Regions from separate parts of the Homo sapiens genome. Here region 2 is linked to region 1. Evidence: fine-mapped expression QTL. Tissue or cell type: monocytes. Region 1 holds a variant in brackets; the other region holds the start of a gene. All regions are shown on one strand. Distances are between the middles of the regions.

Region 1 (5,262 bases):
AATTTAGTTGAAGCCACTGTAGTACAGGCTACAATACAAGCTACACCAGTCCACAGGCCTTTTGCTTTTAACAGGTTTTCATACTAATCACTGTGGAGAAGTAGAAGAAAGCAAGGTCTCAAAGATTAAGAAGTTACAAAACTAATCCACTTTACAAAACTCTTATAGCTATAGTTAATTATTTTTTATCCCACGCACATTGGTAGCTAGAAATTGCCCTTTAACTTCTGCTGCCTTCTTTTATTCTTGAGGGCAGATCTCACTAAATACTATTCCTTCCCATTGACTCCCATTAAATGAAAGTACACATCTAATTAGAGAAGAACTGGCATAAGTCAGCTCACGAGCTGTTGTTTAAATGAGTTATTTGCATTTTTGAGACTCTCCAGAGGGGTGAAACCTATTTCAGTGATCCATCTGGGCTCTTGCTGTAGTTTCTTAGAGTATCTGGGTTTTATTTGACAACCTAGAGAATAGTTTAGCACGGTACTTATTACAAGCTTTCACCTGAGCACTTTTAAACACAGAGGAGAATTAACTACTGTGTGGTAAGTCTATAGAAATAGCCCAAAGGAATACACACTCCCACACACAGGGGAACATACATTCATTCATCAATTCAAGGAGTTCTTCTTCCATAAAGAGAACTATATTTTTGGATCAAGTCTCTCCATAAATGTTCCCTAATCTGATTTGTGTCCTAATATAAAAGACAGTGAGATGGAATACATGAAGAACCTGAGCCTTATGTTAGATGGTCTTAGATTCAATTCATGGCCCAATAATTTGCTACCTATGTGGCCTTGGACAGGCAGAGTGAATTGCCTAGCCTTGATCTTCTCAATCTGATGATCTCATGGAGATTATAATAATATCTTATTCCATTGGGTTATTATGAAGATTAAATCAGTGATAAAATATGGGATTATGCCTAAGATACAGTCTGGCATGTTTTAGGAACTCAATAAATATTAGATTCTCCTCCTTGCATTTTTTTTCTCAGAACTTTAGAAACCAGAGGTAAGAACATCACAAAATAACAGATGACTCTGCTTACTCCAATATGTGCCAAGAAGCAAAAATGCCCAAGTGAACAATCTTATTTAGTAAGATACTGAAAGGAGATTCACCGTTCGATTAATGCAGCATGGATTTGTAAATACCCAGTTTACGCTCTTCTTTGGTCACTATCAAGTAAGAATGACATCACTCTTCACTTTGAACAATTGGGGGATATTTGGTTCACAGCTTTTAGACAAACCAGTATCTTTCCCTGAGGTCATTTTATGAAGAAAAACTTTAAAAAATAAAATATTTTTACTTTCAAAAACCATAGAAAGATATACATCTTATATGTGTGTGTATTTCTGTGTTTGTTGAGTGTATATTATATAAGTGTATATATGTGTGTGTGTGTTTGTGTATACACACACACACACACAGAGTTGACACTTTAGCAATGTAGGGCTTATGGGTGGCAACCCTCGTGTGGTCAAAAATTTGTGTATTACTTTTGATTCCCCGAAGACTTAACTACTAATAGCCTGCTGTTACTGGAAGCCCTATCAATAACATTAACAGTTGATTAATATACATTTTTATTCTGTGTATATTATATACTACAGTCTTACAATAAAGTAAGCTAGGGAAAAGAAAATGTTATAGAAAATCATATGGAAGAGAAAATATATTTACTATTTCTTAAGTAGAAGTGGATCATCGTAAAGGTCTTTATCCTCTTCATCTTCACGTTTAGTAGACTGAGGAGGAGGAGGGGTTGATTTTGCTGTCTCTGATGGAAGAGGTGGAGGAGGTAGAAGGGAAAGCAGGAGAGGCAGGCACAAATTGTGTAAATTTATGGAAATATATTGTATTTTCTCTTACTTTTTGCTTCTTCATTTTCCTAAAAATGTTTCTACATGGTATCAATCCTTCTTCAACTGTTTGCTTTAGTTTCAGTGTCTGTGTCCTAGAAGGGTCCTTGTTGTAAAAGAAGTCAAAAGCCCTCTTGAATAATTGGACCCCTTCTGCTAGATTGTCTAATGTCAGTTTGTTTTCTGGCACTGCATCTTCTACATCTTCCTAATCATCTGGCACTTGTTCAGAAGCACTCATCTCCATCAACTCATCTTTTGTTAATTCCTCTGGTGTTAAGTGTATTAGCTCCTTAATTTCTCCAATATCCATATCTTGAAACCCTTTACCCCCTACCTTTTTGGCCATATCCACAATCTCTTTTATGGTTTCCTTGATTGGCTCTGTTATAAATCTGCTAAAGTCATGTACGACATCAAGAAACAGTTTTCTTCAGCAGAAATTTATTGTTTTATTTATTGACTTGATGGTTTTCATAGCTTTTTCTATAACAATGATGGCATCGGTGGGGGGGAGCCAAGATGGAGGAATAGGAACAGCTCCCGTCTACAGCTCCCAGCGTGAGCGACGCAGAAGACGGGTGATTTCTGCATTTCCATCTGAGGTACCGGGTTCATCTCACTAGGGAGTGCCAGACAGTGGGTGCAGGACAGTGGGTGCAGCGCACCGCGCGAACCGAAGCAGGGCGAGGCATTGCCTCGCTCTGGAAGTGCAAGGGGTCAGGGAGTTCCCTTTCCTAGTCAAAGAAAGGGGTGACAGACGGCACCTGGAAAATCGGGTCACTCCCACCCCAATACTGCGCTTTCCGATGGGCTGAAAAAACAGTGCACCAGGAGATTATATCCTCACCTGGCTGGGAGGGTCCTACGCCCACGGAGTCTCGCTGATTGCTAGCACAGCAGTCTGAGATCAAGCTGCAAGGCGGCAGCGAGGCTGGGGGAGGGGCGCCCGCCATTGCCCAGGCTTGCTTAGGTAAACAAAGCAGCTGGGAAGCTCGAACTGGATGGAGCCCACCACAGCTCAAGGAGGCCTGCCTGCCTCTGTAGGCTCCACCTCAGGGGACAGGGCATAGACAAACAAAAA[G/A]ACAGCAGTAACCACTGCAGACATAAATGTCCCTGTCTGACAGCTTTGAAGAGAGCAGTGGTTCTCCCAGCATGCAGCTGGAGATCTGAGAATGGGCAGACTGCCTCCTCGCTTTGAAGAGAGCAGTGGTTCTCCCAGCATGCAGCTGGAGATCTGAGAACGGGCAGACTGCCTCCTCAAGTGGGTCCCTGACCCCTGACCCCCGAGCAGCCTAACTGGGAGGCACCCCCCAGTAGGGGCAGACTGACACCTCACACGGCCGGGTACTCCTCTGAGACAAAACTTCCAGAGGAACAATCAGACAGCAGCATTCGCGGTTCATGAAAATCCGCTGTTCTGCAGCCACTGCTGCTGGTACCCAGGCAAACAGGGTCTGGAGTAGACCTCTAGCAAACTCCAACACACCTGCAGCTGAGGGTCCTGTCTGTTAGAAGGAAAACTAACAAACAGAAAAGACATCCACACCAAAAACCGATCTGTACATCACCATCATCAAAGACCAAAAGTAGATAAAACCACAAAGATGGGGAAAAAACAGAGCAGAAAAACAGGAAACTCTAAAAAGCAGAGCACCTCTCCTCCTCCAAAGGAACACAGCTCCCCACCAGCGATGGAACAAAGCTGGATGGAGAATGACTTTGATGAGTTGAGAGAAGAAGGCTGCAGACGATCAAACTACTCCGAGCTACAGGAGGAAATTCAAACCAAAGGCAAAGAAGTTGAAAACTTTGGAAAAAATTTAGACGAATGTATAACTAGAATAAGCAATACAGAGAAGTGCTTAAAGGAGCTGATGGAGCTGAAAGTCAAGGCTCGAGAACTACCTGAAGAATGCAGAAGGCTCAGGAGCTGACGCAATCAACTGGAAGAAAGGGTGTCAGTGATGGAAGATGAAATGAATGAAATGAAGTGAGAAGGGAAGTTTAGAGAAAAAAGAATAAAAAGAAACAAACAAAGACTCCAAGAAATGTGGGACTATATGAAAAGACCAAATCTACGTCTGATTGGTGTACCTGAAAGTGACGGGGAGAAGGGAACCAAGTTGGAAAACATTCTGCAGGATATTATCCAGGAGAACTTCCCCAATCTAGCAAGGCAGGCCAACATTCAGATTCAGGAAATACAGAGAATGCCACAAAGATATTCCTCAAGAAGAGCAACTCCAAGACACATAATTGTCAGATTCACCAAAGTGGAAATGAAGGAAAAAATGTTAAGGGCAGCCAGATAGAAAGGTCGGGTTACCCACAAAGGGAAGCCCATCAGACTAACAGCGGACCTCTCGGCAGAAACTCTACAAGCCAGAAGAGAGTGGGGGCCAATATTCAACATTCTCAAAGAAAAGAATTTTCAACCCAGAATTTTATATCCAGCCAAACTAAGCTTCATAAGTGAAGGAGAAATAAAATCCTTTACAGACAAGCAAATGCTGAGAGATTTTGTCACCACCAGGCCTGCCCTAAAAGAGCTCCTGAAGGAAGCACTAAACATGGAAAGGAATAACCGGTACCAGCCACTGCAAAATCATGCCAAATTGTAAAGACCACCAAGGCTAGGAAGAAACTGCATCAACTAACGAGCAAAATAACCAGCTAACATCATAATGACAGGATCAAATTCACACATAACAATATTAACTTTAAATGTAAATGGACTAAATGCTCCAGTTAAAAGACACAGACTGGTAAATTGGATAAAGAGTCAAGACCCATCAGTGTGCTGTATTCAGGAAACCCATCTCACATGCAGAGACACATATAGGCTCAAAATAAAAGGATGGAGGAAGATCTACCAAGCAAATGGAAAACAAAAAAATGCAGGGGTTGCAATCCTAGTCTCTCATAAAACAGACTTTAAACCAACAAAGATCAAAAGAGACAAAGAAGGCCATTACTTAATGGTAAAGGGATCAATTCAACAAGAAGAGCTAACTATCCTATATATATATGCACCCAATAAAGGCACACCCAGATTCATAAAGCAAGTCCTGAGTGACCTACAAAGAGACTTAGACTCCCACACAATAATAATGGGAGACTTTAACACCCCACTGTCAACTTTAGACAGATCAACGAGACAGAAAGTTAACAAGGATACCCAGGAATTGAACTCAGCTCTGCACCAAGCGGACCTAATAGACATCTACAGAACTCTCCACCCCAAATCAATACAATATACATTTTTTTCAGCACCACACCACACCTATTCCAACATTGACCACACACTTGGAAGTAAAGCTCTCCTCAGCAAATGTAAAAGATTAGAAATTATAACAAACTGTCTCTCAGACCACAGTGCAATCAA
Region 2 (5,000 bases), 260 kb before region 1:
GCTCTCCAGGGTTGGTGGGACTGAAAATTCTAGGGGTAAGGACTGTCGCCTTAGGAGAGTCATTAAAAAGGGTTGTGAGGAGGGGTCCCCTGGAGTCAGAGGCTGGTAGAGCTCTGGAGAGAGCATGTGGGGAGCTCACCCATGACAGGGGAGCTGTCTCCTTCAGCAGCGTGGCTGACTCCAGACCCCCAAGAAGGCTGTGGATTACTCCCACAGTCAGCCCAACCAGCAGCAAGGAGTTGGCTGGGTGGTCTTGATACAGGAGGAGGAATAAGGGATTGTCACCTGGGATTCAGGCATGGCTTTCAGGGAGTATCCACAAACCCTCAGGGATTGCATGTAAAATTTTATGTACATGCCATATGCATTTTGCCCCAGGAAGAGGACTCACAGCTAATTCTCAAAAGGACCTATCACCCCTAATTTTTAAGAACCACTGAAATTAATATTTTCATCTGCTCCTCTCTTGCACTATTCAGCACTTCCACCTCATTAAACATTTATATATATATTATATATATTTCTATAATATATATATATAATTAATTAATTCCCTAAACTTTGCAGAAAAAAAATCGAAGCCCAGAGAGGGTAAGTATCTTGCCCAAGTTTGCACAGCTGATGGTCAGGATTGGGATTAGCAGCACTTCCCTGGTCAAGTGAAGCACGATTTCAGGTGGGAAATCTTGCCCGGTCAACTTGACAAATGAAGACAAAGTGATCCCTCCAGACTAATAATAATGTTTTGCAACCATTTTCAAGTCCAGTCATAGAATCCCCTACGTTGCTTGTTTTCAGGGCAGTGTGGGTTGCTTCCCCAGGATACAGGTAGAGGTCACTAAAAGGATAGTTTTCTACTCAAAGAGCCAGAACTCCAGCCCTTGCCTTCCCCTGCCGTAGCACTCGGGCCGGCCCTCCAGTTACCTGAGTTTGCCTGACTTTAACCAACTCCTCTTCCCTTCCCTCCTCCCTTCTCCAGCGGGCTCTCCTTCCAGCTTCCTCCCGGGCTGCAATTCCTCTGCCTAGGTGCCTCCGTCCAGCTCCGGCTTCTGGCCCGGAGGCTGCTCATCTGCCCCTACCCCCGCTGACTTTTGGGAGGAGCAACACCTTTCAGGTCAGCATTGCTAACCCTAAACTTTCCCCGCCGGATGCCCGCGAGGCTGCTGCGGCGGCGGCTGCTGCTGATGGGAGAGTCTCGAGTCCGGCTTTCATCACATCACCTGTCTGCGCCCCTTCCCCCTCCCCGCTCTTTTTTTCTTTTCTTTTTATTTTGACGCAAATAATTTGCATTCTGAGAATCCCACAATCAACGCCGAAACTCATGCTCAAGGATACAGGTGAAGATGCCTTTGACAAAGGCGAATGCGAGCCGAGTGCAGTTTGTAAAAGCTGGGGTTGGGGGCAGTGGTGGAGGCAAAGCACCTTAAGAGTATTTTTTAGCCCCTCTGAGAAGGGACATCCGGGCGGGAGGCGGGCGGATCCCGGGCTTCCCCGCCGGCTGCCGACTCTGGCTCCTGGCTGGCGTTCTCTCCAGGAGCCCGCGCCGGTGGCCCCGCTCTCCCCTTCAGCACGCGGGCCTCGAACCCGCATCCCGGAGAGCGGCCGCCCGCGCAGCCCCTGCCGCGCGCCGTCGGAGGCGGCCTCAGCTCGCCATGGGTACTCACTTTTGCCAGGGAGCAAAGTCTGCCACATCAGTCGATGAGTACTTCCTGCACGAGGACATGAAGCTCCATTGTGTGGAAAGCTGTTTCGCGAACGGTCGGTAAAATCCAGAAAGAGGGAGAAGGAGTGAGTAAGGCAGAAAGCCCAGCCCAGAAAACCGGCGTCTGGGGATTTCAGCCTCCGCTCCCCGGTCCCCAGCCCGGTGGCTCTGTGAGAAGAAGCTCAACTCGGTGCACTTGTTCACTCTTTCTTCATGAGAGGAGGAGTCAGTGTTGCAACATTTATGTTCCTTGCTGGAGGCAAAACAGTGATTTTCTTCAGCATGCAAAACGTCCAGAGCCTGCCAGTTTTAGAAGGCGACGGAGGTAGTTGGGGGAGCTGGAATCCTGCGAAGACCTGAAGAAACAACTGATTCCCCCCAGATCGGTTTTGCATGATTAGGGCCACATATCTTTCATTGAGACTGTACCAGAAAATAGACAGACAAAACAATAATAAAAATGACTTAGTGAGTTGAATGACCTCAAAGATGATATTTTTCCAGGCAGCCAAGATGTGGAGTGTCTCCGTGTCAAATTTCTTTCCTTATTTCTGAGTAACATTGAACAGCAGCTATATTTGAGAGGTTCTCCAGGGATTTGAATTGCACCTTGCCTGAGGAGTCAGATAGAAAGGAGCAAAAGAAGATAGTCAGTGACCTAAGAAGGTTTTGCTTTTTTTTTTTTTTAATACCCAAAGCGCAAACTTCTAGTGTGCTGTGTTTATTCTCTGCCATATGAATATAATAAACATTGGCGGTGCCTAAATAGCCCCACTTCTGTTGTTTTCCACAAATAAAGAATTTATCTTTTCTAATGGGCTGCATGTTGTTCTGACTTTTCTTCTTCTTGAAACCACACACAACCGCCTTTTCTCTTGCAAAAACAAAAACCCCACATTTAACAGTGCTGAAACAAATAATAGCACCTGCCTGAATCAAATAGTTATTTCTGACTATGTATGTTGCTGGTGTCATTTGATGCCATAATAATTAATGCATCCGATTGTTACACAACCCAGAGGGCCACCAAGGAAATACTTTAAACCAAGGTTACTGAGTTTTTTTTTTTGTTTGTTTTTGTTTGTTTTTTTGAGACAGAGTCTCGCTCTGTCGCTCAGGCTGGATTGCAGTGACCCCATCTCGGCTCACTGGAACCTCTGCCTCCTGGATTCAAGCAATTGTCCTGCTTCAGCCTCCCGAGTAGGTGGGACTACAGGCGCGTGCCACCATGTCCGGCTAGTTTTTTGTATTTTTAGTAGAGATGAGGTTTCACCCTGTTAGCCAGGATGGTCTTGATTTCCTGACCTCATGATCCACCCACCTTGGCCTCCTGAAGTGCTGGGATTACAGGCGTGAGCCACTGCGCCTGGCCGTTTTTTTTTTTGTTTTGTTTTAAGTTATTGAAACATGAGGCTTTCCCCTTTGATTTGACTGCTACTCTGGATAACTGGGAAATCACAGTTAGCAGTGAGCATTTGCCAAGCCACAGGAAGCCATTGAAAATCCCATGATGCTTTGGTGATCCTTTTGGACTGGAATCCCAGAAGCAACTACCTAGGCATAATAACCTAATACTTCCTGATCAATAACACGTCCTTATTAAAACATAGACTCCACCTGGTTCTGTTAGCTGATGGGAGATGCATCTTTCACGTGCAGACCGCACATGCTTCCTGTGATGATTAGGGTATATTTACTTTCATTCATGGGTGTCCATGAAGGTACGCAACTTCTATTTATTTTCAGAACCACTGGGCGACATGAGATCCTCAGTGGCAGAATATTTCTATATGACCTTTGCAAAGCAAAGGGTCACTCAATTCTACAATAGTTGTTCTAATCAGACTATTTTAACAGTTAGTGAAATAGAAGATCACTCTGGGTAACTCCAGACTGTCAGCTCTTAGAAGGCAGGGACTTGGCTTTTCCTCCTTGTGGTTCCCACTCAGCTGCAGGCAGCTTGGCTCGTCTGTACTCCTGGCTTACAGACTGGTCGTTGCGTGGCTAATCCATACCTCACTGGTAAGAAGGGCAGGGCTGGCTTTCTGCTCTGTTGTGTAGCACACAGGCACTGTCACAAAGCCACGGGTACTCATTGTCAGTGAGTTACCTTGCCCCAGCTTTCCTGAGATGATGAAATCCGCAGTGAGCCACTATATTTTCCTTTTCTGCCCCACAGTGGTTCTTTGACTATCTCCTTCTCTCTATGCACTGATGTGCTCCAGCTTCACAGCTTCTTTACTGATGTCCTCCTCTAGTTCATTTCTGCATCTCTGTCTTAGCGGACGTGTTCGTCCTTTGCAAGCTGACTCCCTACCTGAGTCCTGGACTCCATATCCGTTTACTTCCTCCAAGACCTTGCTTCTCAGCCTGATGCAGAGGAAGAGCCCAGCACTGGCACTGGGTTAGGTCCTTGCTATTCTTGGTTTCTCACTGTAAATTGGACACAGTAGCATGTGCCTCAAAAATCCAGTCAAATGAATAATAATGGTGATGGCATATGTAAAATGTGTGCCATCTAACAAAGTCTAGAAACATCAAGTTCCTTTCTTTCCTTCCCCTTTCCTCTACCTTTCTTGCATATTTAATCTTTTCTGCCCCATAGGCTTCTTTATCTCAACCTACAACTTCTACATCTTCTTTGACCCTTTTGATGGCTTTACAGTTTAATTCACTCATTTCTTTACCTGCCAATCTTAGTGAAAGAATGACTTACGCACACCAGCTTTCCTTACTTACTTCCCTCTCAGTGCCTTAACTCACTGGTTCTCAACCTTGGCTGTGAACAAGAATCACCTGAGTGTTTAAAATGTACTGTGTCTGGGTGTCACTTGCAGAGCTTCTAATGCAGGAGGTTTAGAATGGGGCTCTGACTTCTCTGTTTTTACAAAAATGCACAGGCAGGGTGGAAAATGGCTCCCTTGAATTCTTTGCACCTGGCTTTCATCACTACCACTCACTGGCTGCTCTCTGGGAGGGCCCTCCAGGCCTCTCTGCAGCACTGGGCTTCGGTTCACTTCCTCCTCTTGAAGTTCTCACGCCTTGGCTTCCAGGCCTCTGCCATCCTCTGGCGGGAGCCTCCCCTCTGTCTGTGGCATTCCTCTGTTGGTTTCTGCCGTGGCTCCTTTTCTCTCTCCTCCTTCTCAAATAGGGAAGGAGTTTTATCATTGCTACTTCATTTGTCTTCTTTGAGAACCACATTTCTTTTTTTTTTTTTTTTTTTTTGGTTTTAAGGAGTGGAGAGGTTAATAGGCAAGAAGGGTCAAGAAGGAAAGGGAGAAGGAAGAAAGAAGAAGCT

Alleles and levels. Alleles are on the strand shown, and positions count from the first base shown. SD is a standard deviation of normalised expression in the study named.
For the expression in monocytes of the gene that starts at base 1,884 in region 2, A is the high allele of the variant in region 1 and G is the other (large effect, 2.0 SD a copy in Quach 2016).

Evidence for each region. PIP is the estimated chance that this variant, and not a neighbour inherited with it, causes the effect.
Region 2: it holds the start of PRLR, and the variant in region 1 is fine-mapped to the expression of PRLR in monocytes (Quach 2016, PIP 0.95). The same link has a PIP of 0.9 or more in monocytes after LPS and monocytes after R848.

What each region holds. Positions count from the first base shown.
Region 1 is chr5:35,491,794-35,497,055 of GRCh38, forward strand. No RefSeq gene overlaps it. Among named protein-coding and RNA genes, the nearest start is that of SPEF2, 120 kb to the right of the region's middle. The variant G/A (reference allele first, on the strand shown) is at 2,959.
Region 2 is chr5:35,228,604-35,233,603 of GRCh38, forward strand. PRLR (prolactin receptor) reads right to left here and starts at 1,884. Exons shown (of 10, transcript NM_000949.7): 1 at 1,665-1,884.